Linked DNA regions of Homo sapiens. The protein of the gene in region 2 purifies or fractionates together with the protein of the main gene of each other region. This does not show direct contact. Each region holds a gene or a part of one and is shown on either strand. Other genes may lie near its edges.

Region 1 (4,902 bases), on a different chromosome or scaffold from region 2:
TCCTCCAGGTTGAGGATGCCGCTGGGGCAGTCCTTCAGGAAGCCCTTGTACCACTGCTTCAGCTCCTGCTCGCTGAACTCAGTGTTCTGAACAAGGTCCTCCAGCACCTCGGGGGCCAGCTTGCTGTTGGTCTTCCCCATGGCGGGGCCTGTGGGACAGAGGGATTCCTCCGACTGGGTCCAGGGAAAGGCCCTGCCTCAGCCACAGCTGCCCCCTCCCCTGCCACACACAGGGCGGGGTTGCAGGTTCCTTCCCCTCATGACACTCCCCCATAATGGGGCCTCCTCTCCCCTCACAACACCTGCATTCAGGTAGGTTTCTTCTCCTAGCCCCGGGGGTCTCCCGCCTTCCAGGTCTCAGCTCTCCTCCTCACTGACCGTGCAGCACGCCACAGTCTTCATCCTCTCCCCTCCTGCTCACACCTTTCATGGCTCCCCTGCCCACAGACTAAGGCCTTGACTCCTCTCCTTGCCATTTAGGGCTTTCTGAAGTCAGCCCCCACCCTCCTTGGCAGGCTTCTGTCCTGAGAAGGGACCCAAGGTAGGTTCCTTGTGTGTCCCCTTGGCACTGTCTCCCAATTTCTTCCTCAAGGCTTTCTTGGGCCACCCCAGCAGGGAGCTTCTCTCCCTCTTTCCTCTATACAAATAGAAATCCTCTACTGACATTTGGCTTTTCATTAATCCATTCATTCCCTGAGCATTTATTGAGACTGACTGTGTGCTAGGCCCTGTGCCAGTGATGGAGATGAAGCAGACATGAGCCAACCTTCAATAACTTGTAACTGGGTCAAAGAGGCAGATGGTTGGTTACAAAGGGCCTCCAATCCATGCCAAGAAATTGGAGGGAACAGACGCTCCTGGGATTTTTTAAAACAAGGGCTGGGAAGATTGCATTCATTCCACAATATTTACAGAATGCTTATGATATACCCAGTCTTGAACGAGTCACTGGGGACCCAAGAAAAGGTATGTGTTTTAAAATTTTTCCAGGCTGGGCACCGTATTTCATGCCTATAATCCCAGTACCTTGGGAGGCTGAGATGAGAGGACAGCTTGAGGCCAGGAGTTTGAGACCAGCCTAGGCAATACAGTGACACCTAGTCTCTACAAAAAATTTAAAAATTTGGCTGGGCGCGGCCGGGCACGGTGGCTCACACCTGTAATCCCAGCACTTTGGGAGGCCAAGGTGGGTGGATCACGAAGTCAGGTGATCAAGACCATCCTGGCTAACACGGTGAAACCCTGTCTCTACTACAAATACAAAAAAATTAGCTGGGCGTCGTGGCAGGCGCCTGTAGTCCCAGCTACTCGGGAGGCTGAGGCAGGAGAATGGCGTCAACCCAGGAGGGAGAGCATGCAGTGAGCTGAGATCGCGCCACTGCACTCCAACCTGGGTGACACAGTGAGACTCCACCTCAAAAAAAAAAAAAATATATTGGCCGGGCGCAGTGGCTCACGCCTGTAATCCCAGCACTTTGAGAGGCTGAGGCAGGTGGATCACGAGGTCAGGAGATCAAGACCATCCTGGCTAACACAGTGAAACCCCATCTCTACTAAAAATACAAAAAATTAGCCAGGCATGGTGGCGGGCGCCAGTAGTCCCAGCTACTTGGGAGGCTGAGGCAGGAGAATGGCATCAACCCCAGAGGCGGAGCTTGCGGTGAGCCGAGATCGCTCCACTGCACTCCAGCCTGGGCGACAGAGTGAGACTCCGTCTCAAAAAAAAAAAAAAAAAAAAATTCACTGAGTGTGGTGGTGCATGCCTGTAGTCCCAGATACTTGGGAGGCTAAGATGGGAGGATCACTTGAGCCTGGGAGGCAGGGGTTGCAGTGAGCTGAGATGGCACCACTGTACTACAGCCTGGGCGATAAAGAAAGGCCCTGTCTCAAAAAAGAAAAAAAAGAATTTTTCCTTTGGCCACAGCATGCAAGATGACCTTTGGTGGGGGCAGGTAGGTAGAGCAGGGAGGGGCCTGCTACACGGTTCAGGTGAGAGACAATGCTGCCAGAGTAAGGGTCGTGGAGAGACGTGGATGGGCTGAGACGTTAAGAAGGGCACTGGCAGGACTTTGCAGTTGATTGGATGTGGGAGTAAGAGGAACAGAGGAGTTGAGGCAGAGGCTCAGATTTGAGCCTCAGTGGATAGAAGTGTTGTTGCTGAGAAGCAGGTTTGGGAAGGATCAAGAGTTATTCCCCAGTGGGAATGTGAGCCCGTAAGTGGGCTGTGCCAGGGGAAGTGTTTGAAGAGGTACAGGCCCTCCTCAGGAAGTGTGGCCAGACCTTGAAGGCAGAGTGGACCCTCCTCTCTGACCTCCCTGGGAGGAATGTCCCTGCAGAGTCTGGGTTTCCCAGGACATGGCTTGGGAGGTGCCTCTGACCTGCCTAGAGTCTCTTTGGAAGAGGGTCAGGCTCCCACCCCAGGTAGCCTGTCCTCAAGATACTCTGGAAAAGGAAGCCCTTGGGCTGGCAGAAGGAATTCCACTCCCATAGCCCGATGTCTGCCAGTGGGCTTCTAATTCTTACAACTGGGAAAACACTAAATAGCAAATCTGAGGTTGGTCCATTCCTTCCCACTCCCCTTTGCTGGGCTGACCTCAGGCTAGTTACAGATCCTCTCTGGGCCTCAGATTCCTCCACTGGGCCATAAGGAAGACCAAGGAGCAGTGCAGGTAGCAACATCCTTCCCCACTCCCAGAGGATGAGGAATTGTATGCCCTCAGGAAAAGCCAGGGAGGGGGAGCATGCCATCTTCAGGAACCTGAGGCTGGGCGGAAAATGGCTACACTGAGGCCAGAGCAAGGATGCCTCTGGAACACCCATAGGCAAAAGGAGGCAGGCCTCACCCCTCTCCCAAATCCAAAGGACTCTCAAGGCTCAGGGTATAGTCAAGGAAGCTGGAGAAGTCAGGCAGAGATGTCTGATGGGGGGAGGCACAGCCTCTCCAGCTGTCTTCCGTAGGATGTGCCTGAGAGTCAGCATGAGGGGCTGGGTCTGTGTGTGGGAGCATGTCAATGTCTGAGGCTGCAAATCTGTCAGAGTGCACACGTCTCTCTGTGTGTGTCACAGTGTCTGTGTGGCTCTCACCTTATACCCCTTTTCTCCTCCCTGCTCTGTGCTGCCTTCTCCACAATTCTCTGTCTCCTAGGGTCCTTCCTGTTCCCTGCTTTTATTGGGTCTCAGACCCAGACTATGCCTCCTCCTTTATTTCTCCTCATTCCCTCTAGATCATCAGAAGGTCAAAGCTGAGCCTGGGCAAGATAAGGAAACCCTGTTTCTACATAAAATTTAAAAATTAGCCAGACATGGTAGCATGTGCCTGTAGTCCCAGCTGCTCAGAAGCTGAGGTGGGAGGATCACTTGAGCCCAGGAGGTTGAGGCTGCAGTGAGCCGTGATTGAGCCACTGCACTCGAGCCTGGGCAACAGAGCAAGACCCTGTCTCAAAAAAAAAATAAGTAAATAAAAAATTAAGAAAAGAAGGTCAAAACTGGCCGTGCCCTTTAAGATCATCCCCTTATTTCAGTGAAAATGGAAATTGAGAGATAGGAGAAAACTGGCTCAGGGTTACACAGCAGGTCAGTGGGAGGGCCCAGATGAGCACTCAGGCTGAATCCGTGCTACCTGCCTGGGCCACCGTCTCCAAATCATGGCTACTCTTGTTCAGCACAGACCTTCTCCACCCACATCTGCCCTCTGGGAAAATCAGAGCTCTGATCTCCCTTTTGGCCGCAGTGGAACCATCTGGGGCCACAATCTCTGACACCCAGGAGATAGCCACCCTAGGGGTGTCCACCAGCACCTCTGAGACAGCAAGTCTACAGCCAGACTCGCTCCCAACCAGAGATGGTCAGACTGTCTCTGTTGCCCCTTCCTTCTCTCCCTCATCCCCGGGGTGTGGGGAACACAATCTTAGTTACCTTCATTTTTTCCCTTCCCTTTGCCCTAGGTCTAACTTGCCATCAAGTCCTGTTGTCTCTTATTTTGAAATGCTCTTGGTACCTTCATTATGTCCATAGCCAGGGACACAGCCGAGGGGGCTGAAATCAAGCTATGCTCATGCCCATGGGGCTTCCCTGCCTGGCAGGAAGTGCCTTTCTTTTGATTCCTCTGTTAGGAGGGAATGGCTTTTTCCCCCCGAAAGTTACAATATAGACTAGAAGTAGCCATGCCCATGGGCCCCCTGAAACTCTAGAATCCTCTAGAATCTGGTCTCAAAGTGCCCACCTATCTCGCCTCAGCTCTCATTGCTCACTCACCACCGCATACTCCTCTCAAGCCAGCCTTCTCACAGCCAGACACGCCTCACCTCTTTGCTAAGCTATTTTCCTCTCCCCTAATATCCTTTCTTCTCTCCTGGACTATAATCAGTCTTCAGGGCCTGGTTGAAGCCTGCTTCCTTATGATCAGCCTTTTCCAGTCTGGACAGTGGAGAGTCAGCAGCCCAAGCTCAGCACTTTGGGCATGAGTCAGTCCCCCACAGGCGTGTAGACTTCATAGCCCTCTGACCCTCACCTGGTGCTGTAGAATTCCAGGATGCAGTCTGATTTGAGACAGGTCTTTGCATTAAACCCCTGCCTGAGTCAGAAAAAAAATCCTCCAGACCTTTTTGCTCAATGGCAAGGAGTTGATCCCCTCCAATATGCCCCAGTCCACTTTTGAGCAGGTTGAAGCGTGAGAAAAGTTTATTTTTCCCATGGGGAAAATAAAAGTGCTTTTCCCTATGCACTCACTTCTCCCAGTGAGTGCTTAGTCCTCACTGAGTCTGGGACCCATGAGAGCAGGGGTTTTTTCTCTCTTATAGCTCCCCTACCCTGGTTCCCACCCTGCCTTCTGTGCCTGCACAGAACTGCTCTGTGGAGACGCAGTGGCAATGCCTAGGACACAGTGATGTTCAATGAATGTCTC
Region 2 (4,902 bases):
CTGTAATCCCAGCTACTCAGGAGGCTGAGACAGGAGAATCATTTGAACGTGGGAGGTGGAGGTTGCAGTGAGCCGAGATGGCGCCATTGCACTCCAGCCTGGGCAACAGGAGCTAAACTCCATCTCAAAAAAAAAAAAAAAAAAAAAAAATTGAAAATTGTTCTTTGTTTAAAGAACTTACTCATATAACCAAACATCACCTGTTCCCCAATAACCTATGGAAATAAAAAAATTTTACAAAATATGTTTTATTATTTTTTCAATGCATAATATAGGCACATGATAAAGAATTTGAACGCACAAAAGGAGTTATGAAAAAAAAGTCTCCTTTACTATCTTGTTCCTTAGACACAAAATTCTTCTTGCCTGAAGCAACCATTGTTATCAGTTTTTTGGAGCTCTTTCAGGAGATATACACATTTCCATGGAAGGCAGCTACAATACACTCTGCTATTCACTTTGCTTTTTTCATTTAACAGTGTGTCTTGGACATATTATATATCATTGCATATGGAACTGCTTCATAGTTTATAAATTGAAGACATAATATTCCATGGTATAACTCACCATAGCTCATTTTACTAGTCTTCTATTAATGGGAACTGATGTTTTTCTCAATATTTTGCTATTACAACAATGCTGCAGTAAACATTTCCCACATGTGTAAAAATATCTGTAGGTTAAACAACTTAAAAGTTGAGGTGCTGTTTTAAAGGATATGTGTCTTCTAAATTTTGATAGAGGTTGCCTTGTCACCCTATATAGAGTTTGTAAAGCTGATACGCCCACCAGCTAAGTGTGAGAGAACCCATTTCACAATCCTCAGACACGCAATGTGTAATCAAACTTCTTGATCTTTGTCAATTTAATAGATAAAAAGTGAGATATATTTATAGGCTTATTCTACTTTTACCTTTTTATGAATTAGTTAGTGCCCTTTCCATGTTTAAGAATCTTTTTCTGGATGTTATTCGTTTATATCCTTTTGCTCATTTTCTTACTGGGATACTGTTCTGTTCTCTTACTATTTTACAGAGCTTCGTTTATATTAAGGAAACAAACTTATTGTGATATGACTGGCAAATAAGTGAGAAGTCCTAAAGAGAAATTCAGGGTTACTTTTCAAAGCAAAGGGAACTTGGGCTAGTTAAAAGGGTGGTGGATAGGAACTTTTTTTTTTTTTTTTTTTGGAATTAAGTCATTATCCTCAGCAAATTGCTCCCTGATTCCCAATTCCTATTTATTTAACCTGAAAAACAGGTATTTGGATTAGTGAAGACACTTCAATCATAGCATGACCTTTCACTCCAGGCCTAGGGGAAAGTTCAAGGAGAACTAGCCCAAGCTTCTAATACAAATTCTGGGTGACTATTTTTACTGATCTACAATTACTGGGTGCCTTCCATTAAAAAAAGGCCAAAATCTGTGGTCCTGATTTTATCATTTATTTTACCATAGGTAACCTTTCCCCTGCTTCCTGCAGGGGAAGAGTCCTCAGGGATTCTTTGCTGGTTGCAATGAAAAGAAAAGCAGGTGTGCATCCCAGATTTGTGTTTATGCCAGCCTCTATATCCACCTGTCTCTCTGATTTGTGGGCTTTTGAAGACACATGCTACATGATAATCTCCTGAAAGTGAAGGAAGAAGTGAGAATGTATGGAATCTAGATAGAATAGAAAAAACTTTCTGGTCATGACTGAAAAACTTGTACTAAACCCAAAATAATTTCTATCAACAGTAAAATCTGGACAAAATACATAAAACAACCATTTGAAGGCACTCAGAGCAACTGACATAGGCAAGCCTTCATGGGCTACAGTCCAAGATGAAGGGAAGAAAAGGGAGGTGAGTTTCACATTCCCCATGTGTATTTCCCTGAGGATATTTGACCATTTACTGGGTTGGGAGAGTATGAGGAAAGGAGGAATAAGGACTGAGCAGAAAGCAGTAGTTTTACTGAACTGAGAAGGTAGAGAATTTGAAAGTTGCCAAAGCACCTGGCGTTTGAGAAATCCTGGAGAGGGAAGGACCACAGAAGCTAGGCTAAAAATATGATGCAATTCCCCTTCAAGGCATTTTTGGATTTCTAAGCTGTGTGTACACGGTGAGACCCCAAAATAGCTAGCAGAAACAAAAGCTGAGAGTCTAAAGAGCAAAGCGGAAGTTTCAGGAGTCATGGGGTTCAAGAAGTACTGAAATAGGAGGCTAGGATCAGCTGAAGCGGAGGGACCTTCTAAACAGTCCAGATTTGTCCCTGAGGTCTCAGAAAGGCTATGTTCCTGCAGTAAGAGCCACACCCTAAGAGTAAAACTAAAACGAGCACAGATCATTTTAAAAACACATACAAGTAGTGCTTAAATAGAATCAATGTGATCTGCCTCTACTCCATCTACTTGCTAGAACAAAACCTTCATTACTGCATATATTGTCTTTATAGTTTTTAAAATACAATGCCCACCAGTCAATTAAAAAACATTGAGGCATGTTACACAACTGGGCAAATAATCAAGATCTGAAAGGAGAAATAACAGAAACATGCTCACAGGTATTTTAGCTTTGGCCAATAGTAAGATGAACAATTAACTGTATAAGACCAGTTTTTTTTTTTTTTTTTTCCTGAGACAGAGTCTCGCTCTGTCGCCCAGGCTTGAGTGCAGTGGCGCGATCTCGGCTCACTGCAAGCTCCGCCTCCCGGGTTCACGCCATTCTCCTGCCTCAGCCTCCCGAGTAGCTGGGACTACAGGCGTCCGCCACCACGCCCGGCTAATTTTTTGTATTTTTTAGTAGAGACAGGGTTTCACCGTGTTAGCCAGGGTGGTCTTGATCTCCTGACCTCGTGATCCACCCGCCTCGGGCTCCCAAAGTGCTGGGATTACAGGCGTAAGCCACCGCGCCTGGCCAAGACCAGTTTTTTTTTTAAACCCCAAAATTAAAGACAAGATTAATTACGCAAGGACCTTTTTGATTAACATTTTATGTTCCCCAAAATTTCTTCAGAGCTTTTCTCATATCTTTGTTCCTAAGACTATATATCACAGGGTTAAGCAGTGGGGTAACAACAGAATAAAACAGAGTCACAGTCTTCTGCTTTCCAGCTTCATTCTTAGATGGTGGGCTCCCATACATGACCAGTACTGAGCCGTAGAACAGTGAAACCACAGCCAGGTGAGACCCACAGGTGGAGAAAGCCTTTCTTCTCCCAGCTGCTGAAGGGACCCTCAACACAGCTCTCACGACCAGAGCATAGGACCCCACAATGAAGAGAAAGAGCATAAAGACAGGCAGAGGACTTAAGACAGAAAAGACAAGCTCTATCACAGGGCCTTTTTTGCAAGTGAGAGTTAGAAGAGGAGCTGGGTCACATAGGAAGTGGTCAATAATCCTAGATCCACAGAAGGACATTTGGGAGATGTTGACGATAGGAATCAAGAACCAGATGAAACCAAGTACCCAGCAATTGACCACAAGATTGGTACAGAGACGTCTGGTCATAATGGTTGGATAGCGTAGAGGCCGACAGATGGCAAGGTATCGATCAAATGCCATAACTGCCAGGAAAAAGCATTCTGTAGAGCCCAAGGAGAAGAAAAAGTAGAACTGGAGGAAGCAGCCAGAGAACGAGATGATCTTGGTGTCAGAGAGGAAGTTGGCCAGCATGCTGGGGACTGTGGAGGTGACATAACATATCTCCAAGAAGGAGAAGTTGGCGAGCAGGATGTACATGGGGGCGTGGAGTCTCTGATCCCAGTGCACAGCACAGATGATGGAACCATTGCCCATGAGGGTCAGGAGGTAAACAACAGTGAAGAGCACAAAGAGGAGGATCTGCCCCTCCCTGGGGCAAGGGAAGCCCAGGAGGATGAAGCCAGTGAAGGTGCTGGAGTTGCTGGGGCTGTTGAAGATTTTCATGTGCCTGTGAATTGTAAAAGCACCAGCAATTACTGAATGACGGTGCAAACATAGATGGGGAATCAGATTTATATTTAAATCATTTTGGGAAAGAAAATGCATAAATTTACTATTGAAATAAAAGTAAAAAGTAAAAAACAGAATGCAGATATGTCAATAGTCACTTTTTTTCTTTTAAACTGACGTATTGATCTGGATTGATTCTTTGCTCGCGTTCACATTTTTACCATAGGCTCAAGAAAACTTTTGACCAAAATTGATAAGCTGTCATTTACATTTTACTAGGTGTAAAGCCATTATAATTTTCAGGCATGTTTACAACACTTTCCTTCAAGAGCCTTTGTATAAATATATAACAGAATATGTATTTATGGATATATTCTTACACAAATGAATTTCATTTTCAGACGGTGAAATCATTGCAGCTTTTTGTGGCAGAGACTGAGTGAAACTGTGTAGCCATGTAATATGAGACCATAAAACTGTTTGAATTACTTCTTTTATGTCACTTTTGACACTGGCCTTATTCTAAATTAAATGGTTAACTTATTAACTTAATAATATCATTCACTTGTTTCATGAGTAACACAGTCAAATCAATTAGAGGAAATTAGCTGTTGTCAGTTTCTTTTGTGTTAGGACAGCAGTCCTAGCCATCCTCAGTAGACCAGGCTGAAAGAATTAACTGGCCATGCTGAAACACGTCTGTGCTTGCCGTGAAGAATATATAAATTTGCCTAGACTATAGTTAAAGATATAATTCTATTCCAATAATACAAATTATGGATACAATTGATAACATGCAATTCTAAATAACAGTGGGTTTGTAGGCGATATTAGACTAAAGCTGTGGTCCATCTCCCAGTAACCACTTAGGAACATCTCAAGGCAGAGTGGCTTTTGAAGGCTGAATATCTGCATGATGCCTTTCATTTGTTTTAAATGAATTAGAATATCTTTGTGAAACAATCATGTAATCAAGCCTTGGAATTAG
Region 3 (5,427 bases), on a different chromosome or scaffold from region 2:
TTGACTAAATCCATTGGCTGGCGTTTTTCAGTAAGGACAGCATCTTGGCTTGGGATTGGGTGAGCAACTTAAACACTGGATTCAGACTCCAGCTCACCAGCTCCTGTTTGGGCAATCCAAGACTCACTTCCAAAACAGGAATGTTGACAACAGTACTCACCCCACCAAGCTGAGGTGAGATAAAGCATATTAAATAGCTCTTTACAAACGTCATTTGTAGTCACTGGAGAAAGCCATGTCCTGCTGAGCTCTCTACTCTCAAATGTTGATGCCCAAAGTTTGCCACCCCATGGCCAGTGGCACTGGGAAGGTCCCATGGGCAGTGTCAAGGAGAAGTGGGTTGCAACACAATTGCTTAATACTTCTGAAAGAGGCTATTATTTTGCCTAAACTTTATGATTTGCTGTGATCTGGAGAGAGGTGGGACCCCTGAACACTGGAGTCTACCCAGAATTCCTTTTACTTCTAAAAGTTTTTGCAGCCATACATAGGTATTAAATCATTTCTTGGATCAAAACTATCATTATCCTGGTTCCTTGTAGATGTACTGTTACATTTACATCCAAAACATAAAATACACTCATGATCTCAGAGGTGGCAGTTTTGGGGCAGCATCTTTGTGTATCATTTAACTGTAAAATGAACAATCATCTTTCCGAAGAGTAGGAGAATGAGGACTTCATGAAACCATCACACAAGAGCACACTTTGAGATGTGGGATTTCATGATGGTAAAATCGACCTTCCTTAGGAGGTACGTGGGAAGGAAACTAGAAAGGTTGGCGCAGTTACATTTCATACCTTGGTTAAATAAATCATGCGGTCTATTTCTTAACCAACTGGCACAACTGCAACCCTCTTTCCATTCTTCTTAACAGGATCTGTTCCTCATTTGCAGTCTTTATTTCTCTACACACCTGTTTTCCCCAAAGTCTTAGAACTGCAAGAGGAGCCTGGCTTGGCCGTGCTGGTTATCCCATCGTCTTCACGTTAGCGCTTGTCTCGGTGTAGCCCACCGTGTCTCCTCCAGTGTCCCCTGCAACTTCCCCCGCAGTGTCCCTGCTTCTGTGGAAGCCTCTCGGCCTGGACTTCCTTGCGAGCAGCAGTTTAAAGGCCGCCGCTCTGTACTTCTTTGAAATGAGGTTGTAGAGGATTGGGTTGATAGATGCGCTCAGATAGAAAAGTTGCAGAGCGACGATGTTAAAGTACTGAGAGAAGTACATCATCCGCGAATCTTCCGTGTTTATGTAAATGATTCTGCCAACGTGGAAGGGCAACCAGCAAATTATAAATGCCAGAACCACCACCACTGCAACATAAGACACAGCACCGGGATTAACAAAAGCATTGGGAAGCAAATAAACCCCCCACCCCGACAAGGAACCATCTGCAATAACAAGTAACAGCAAAATAAATTAGAGAAAACTTCTACCTAGGCAGATCCTCACCCCAGAAAAAATGACCAGGCTGCAGGCTGCATGGATACTTGCTTTAAAACTGCATAGTAGGCTCCCATATGTGTTATCAAGGCTGGACATAAACCAGAAGGAGCAATTTCTCTGAACAAGCCGCCTTGGCAGGCTTCCTTCCACAAACCCACTTCGGAGACAAGTTTTCTGTTCTCTGTTGAAAAGAATTCTACAACAGGTCTGCACAATCTTTACTTTTTGATACGAGCAAGGTTTACTTTAGCCTTCAGCATCACTTAACATTAAATAAAAAATTTTAGCTTAATGAAATCTCCCTCGTCTTCTCAAGAGCACTGTGAGGACTCCTCATCTGTGGCATCTAACAGGTGGTTGGATTAAGAATTACCAACTCTCCTTTCTGGTCTCAGAGGCTCTGGAAAAGCACTGCTGGTTACTGAATCGGATCCGGGGATCCCACCCTCAAAGCGCCCTGGGGTCCCCCAGAGCTCCTGGGGGACAGGACATGGTTTTCTCGGGGGATGGGAAGTACCGGCGGGTGGAGGCTGGAATCGAAATAGGAAAGGGAGCTGGAAGCGGCGCCCAGAGCTGGGCGAGCAGGGGAAGGGGACCCAGCGTTTGCGCGGTCCCCGGCGGGGCGGACTGCAGGCAGGCGTCTTTGGAACCACGGCGGCTCCACTTACGCAGGACGCGGACGGTCTGCCGGTGGCCTCTCTCCCGCCCCGAGGCGGCCGGGCCTCGCAGCGGCCGCCGGCTGCTCCACAGCTCCCGCCCGATGAGCCCGTAGAGGATGCTGAGGCACAGAAAGGGCAGGAAGAAGTAGGCGGTGGTGACCCACAGCATGACACGCAGCGCGCCCAGCTGCGCGGGGCTCGGCCGGCATTCGCGGCTGAACAGCGCCGCGGCCTCCGCGGTCTCGGGCCCCGACGGCGGGGACGGCGGTGGCGCCCGCGAGAGCCAGAGAGGCGGCGACGAGGCGAGAGGCGAGGAGGCGATCCGCGCGGTGCCATTGAGGCCCGGGACTACGGAGATGCCGGGGTCCTGCTCGACGCCCACCAGGAACAAGAAGGGACCGGCAGAGAGCAGCGCCACGGCCCAGAGCACAGCGATGAGCGCGCGGACGCGGCGCCGGGTGACCAAGACGCGGGCGCGGAGCGGGCGGCAGATGGCCAGGTAGCGCTCGACGCTGAGCGCGGTCATGTGCAGCAGCGTGGCGTAGGTGCAGCCCTCGCCCACGTAGAGGGACAGGCGGCAGAGCAGCGGCCCGAACACCCAGGGCCGCGAGCGCCAGAGGCGGTACAGGTCGAACGGCAGCCCGAGCAGGATGAGTAGGTCGGACACGGCCATGCTGCCCAGGTACAAGTTGGTGGTGGTCCGCATGTCCCGGTAGCGCCCGATCAGCATCACGGTCACCACGTTGCCGCTCACCCCGACGACGAACAGGCACAGGCACACAGCGGTCACCGGCACCAGCGCCCCCAGGGGAAAGGGCGAGCAGCGGCGCTCGTCGCAAGGCGGCAGCGCGGGCCACGGCGGCTCCCGCGCCCCCTCGGGGCCGTCGCTGCCGTTCCAGGGGCTGCCCATGGGTGCTCCGCGCGGCCGCCGCGTCCCGGGTCGGGCTGGGAGCCTGGCGCGTGGTCCCTCTCGGTGAGCGCCTCCTTTCCCAGCCCGCACGCTGCGGGCGCGGCAGGTCAGACGGCGGAGCGCTGCGCTGCGCTGCGGGGCGCGAGAAGCGGCTCTGCGGGGTGGGCTCCGAGGCGCTCCCGAGCTAGCTGCGCGCAGTCTCCGCCCACGGCCGCGGCCCGCCCCGGCCCGGCCCTGCTCCGCTCCCGCGCCCTCTCCCGGGCCCATGCAGTTCCAGGGCGCTTCCCTCTCCACTAACTGGAATACCCGGCGCCCTTAGCGCACGAGCCCTACCCGGTCCGGTGAGCGATGTCTGCACCCTAGACAGCTTTGGTTACAGGACTGAGCACTGTACGGGCGCTTTTGTCAGTCTGGTACTCCGGGCACCTTCGAAGGGATCTGGTCTGGTGGCTGGTAGCTGCCGCTTGACGGTGGAGGAGGGCTCATGGTAATCCTCAGGAAGCCATAATGCTAAATAATAGGAGGGGAGTCTAGACCAGAATCTAGAGCCTCTCCTGTCTAATCCTGGCTCTACAACCGAGTAACTTGTGTAATCTTGGGCTAGTCCTGGTCTCGCCCAGCCCAGTTCTCCTCTTCTGTAAATTCGCGAGTGGTGGAGGGAGCTGACCATATAATTGACCAAATAATTTCTTTTTTTTCTTTTTTTCTTTCTTTCTTTCTTTTTTTCTTCTTGAGACAGGGTCTCACTGTCGTCCAGGCTGGAGTTTAAGTGGCGCGATCACAGCTCACTGCAGCCTCGACCTCCCAGGCTCAAGCAGTCCTCCCACCTCAGCCTCCTGAGTAGCTGGGAGCACAGGAGCGCCCAAGCCCCGGCTAAATTTTGTGTTTTTTGTGTAGTCAGGGTTTCGCCATGTTGGCCAGCCTGGTCTCGAACTCCTGACCCCAGGTGGTCCACCCGCCTCGACCTCCCAAAGTGCTGGGATTACAGGCGTGAGCCACCGCGCCCGGCAGTGACCAGATAATTTCAAGGATCCGTGAGCATGTTTACTTATTATAAAGAACAAGACAAATATTTACGTGGACACTAGAGTACTTTCACATGTGATATGTCATTCTTATGTACAACATGTTTTATAAACTTAAAAAACTAGAGGATTTGTCAACACCGGAAAGAACGAAAATTGGGGAAAGGGGCTAAAACGGATGTTCAGTCTGTTCGGTGTGGTCTTAATAACAATAGCTAACACTTACTGAGAATTTAGATGGATCTGGCCCTGTGCTCTCCATTTAATCCTCATGGCCCGGGGCGCTCCTTTCGCCCATGAACAAAGCGGTCTTGCTTGAGATCAAGCAGGCAGTAAGAGGCGGGACTGGGATATGGGCTCTGGTCGGCCTAATCCCAGAGCTTGCAAGCCTGACGTCCTACTCACTGCCCAGCTCCACCCCCTCAGTGGCTTAAATCCTCAACCTCTTCTCTGGAGTCTCGATTCTGGACCTGACACCTGGCTTTGCCTAGGGCAAGCTTCTCCTGCAGTTCTCTCTCACATGCAGACTGTGAGCTTGGAGGAGGGACACCTGTCGCCTCCCTCATCGCTGCTGTTTCCAGCGGTCCTAAAACCGCCCTCCCTAGCGCTTTCCTCCGTGGTCACCCGTAGTCCCTGAGGGACAGGTGCCTGCGCTCTCTTTGAAGCACTGCATCTGCGGCCGTTCACACCCATGCCGAGTCTTGGAATGCCTTGGCCTCTAGTTTGTTGACCTCCTTTCCACCTATGACCTTGCTCTCCACCCGATCTCAGCCGCGCCTGTCGACGGAACTTACACCTCACGGTTGCCTGCCAGCCTTCCTCCACCTCCACTTCAGTCAGCCCTCTTTCTGACCTCCGCCCGCTCTCTTTTTAGCTCTCTTCCCCTAGCACCTCAGTTCCGGTAATCCTTCAACCCACTGCGACCTCCATCGCTGGCTCCTCCTTCCTTTTCCCGGTCCCTTGCCTGCCCCAGGTCTTCACTTTCTTCCTTTACCCAACGTAAATTCCACGGGCAGTCGCCATCACTCCCACACAGACGCCCTCGACTCCCTTGCTCTTTTCTCCATTGTCAGCCTCGTCCATCCACCAAGAGCACCACAACCCTGGTGAAGCCGAATTCCCTGCCTACTCCTTGCCTGCTCTCACATGGCGTTGTTTCACTTGAAAGCACAACCTCTAGCGGGGTGCTTCGTTCCCCCGGCCTTCCCAACTCTCACCTGACCTCATTCACTCTCCCACCACCAGGCTGCTGGTTTATACCCCCTCCTCTCTCCTTAGACCCAACACCCACCACCCCTTCCTTTGGGAGGTTTCCTTGCACCCTGTTTCTCTGAAGATAACTACCACACCCCCACCTCTGCTCGTGCTCCCCTGGGACAGTTGGTGGTACTT

Evidence for each region. Proteins that work in one complex are often made in the same cells at the same time.
Region 1: the proteins of OR11G2 (region 2) and HPCAL4 purify together in Homo sapiens (affinity purification with mass spectrometry; one large-scale study listed by BioGRID and IntAct). This does not show direct contact.
Region 3: the proteins of OR11G2 (region 2) and MLNR purify together in Homo sapiens (affinity purification with mass spectrometry; one large-scale study listed by BioGRID and IntAct). This does not show direct contact.

The regions. Positions count from the first base shown.
Region 1 is NC_000001.11:39,684,464-39,689,365, forward strand, and holds part of HPCAL4 (hippocalcin-like protein 4), read right to left. Parts: intron 149-4,902; 5' UTR 141-148; coding exon 1-140. UniProt on the Homo sapiens protein: May be involved in the calcium-dependent regulation of rhodopsin phosphorylation.
Region 2 is NC_000014.9:20,196,444-20,201,345, reverse strand, and holds the end of OR11G2 (olfactory receptor 11G2), read right to left. Parts: intron 3,913-4,902; 5' UTR 3,909-3,912; coding exon 2,973-3,908; 3' UTR 271-2,972; downstream 1-270. UniProt on the Homo sapiens protein: Odorant receptor.
Region 3 is NC_000013.11:49,217,921-49,223,347, reverse strand, and holds MLNR (motilin receptor), read right to left. Parts: upstream 3,011-5,427; coding exon 2,110-3,010; intron 1,309-2,109; coding exon 971-1,308; downstream 1-970. UniProt on the Homo sapiens protein: Receptor for motilin.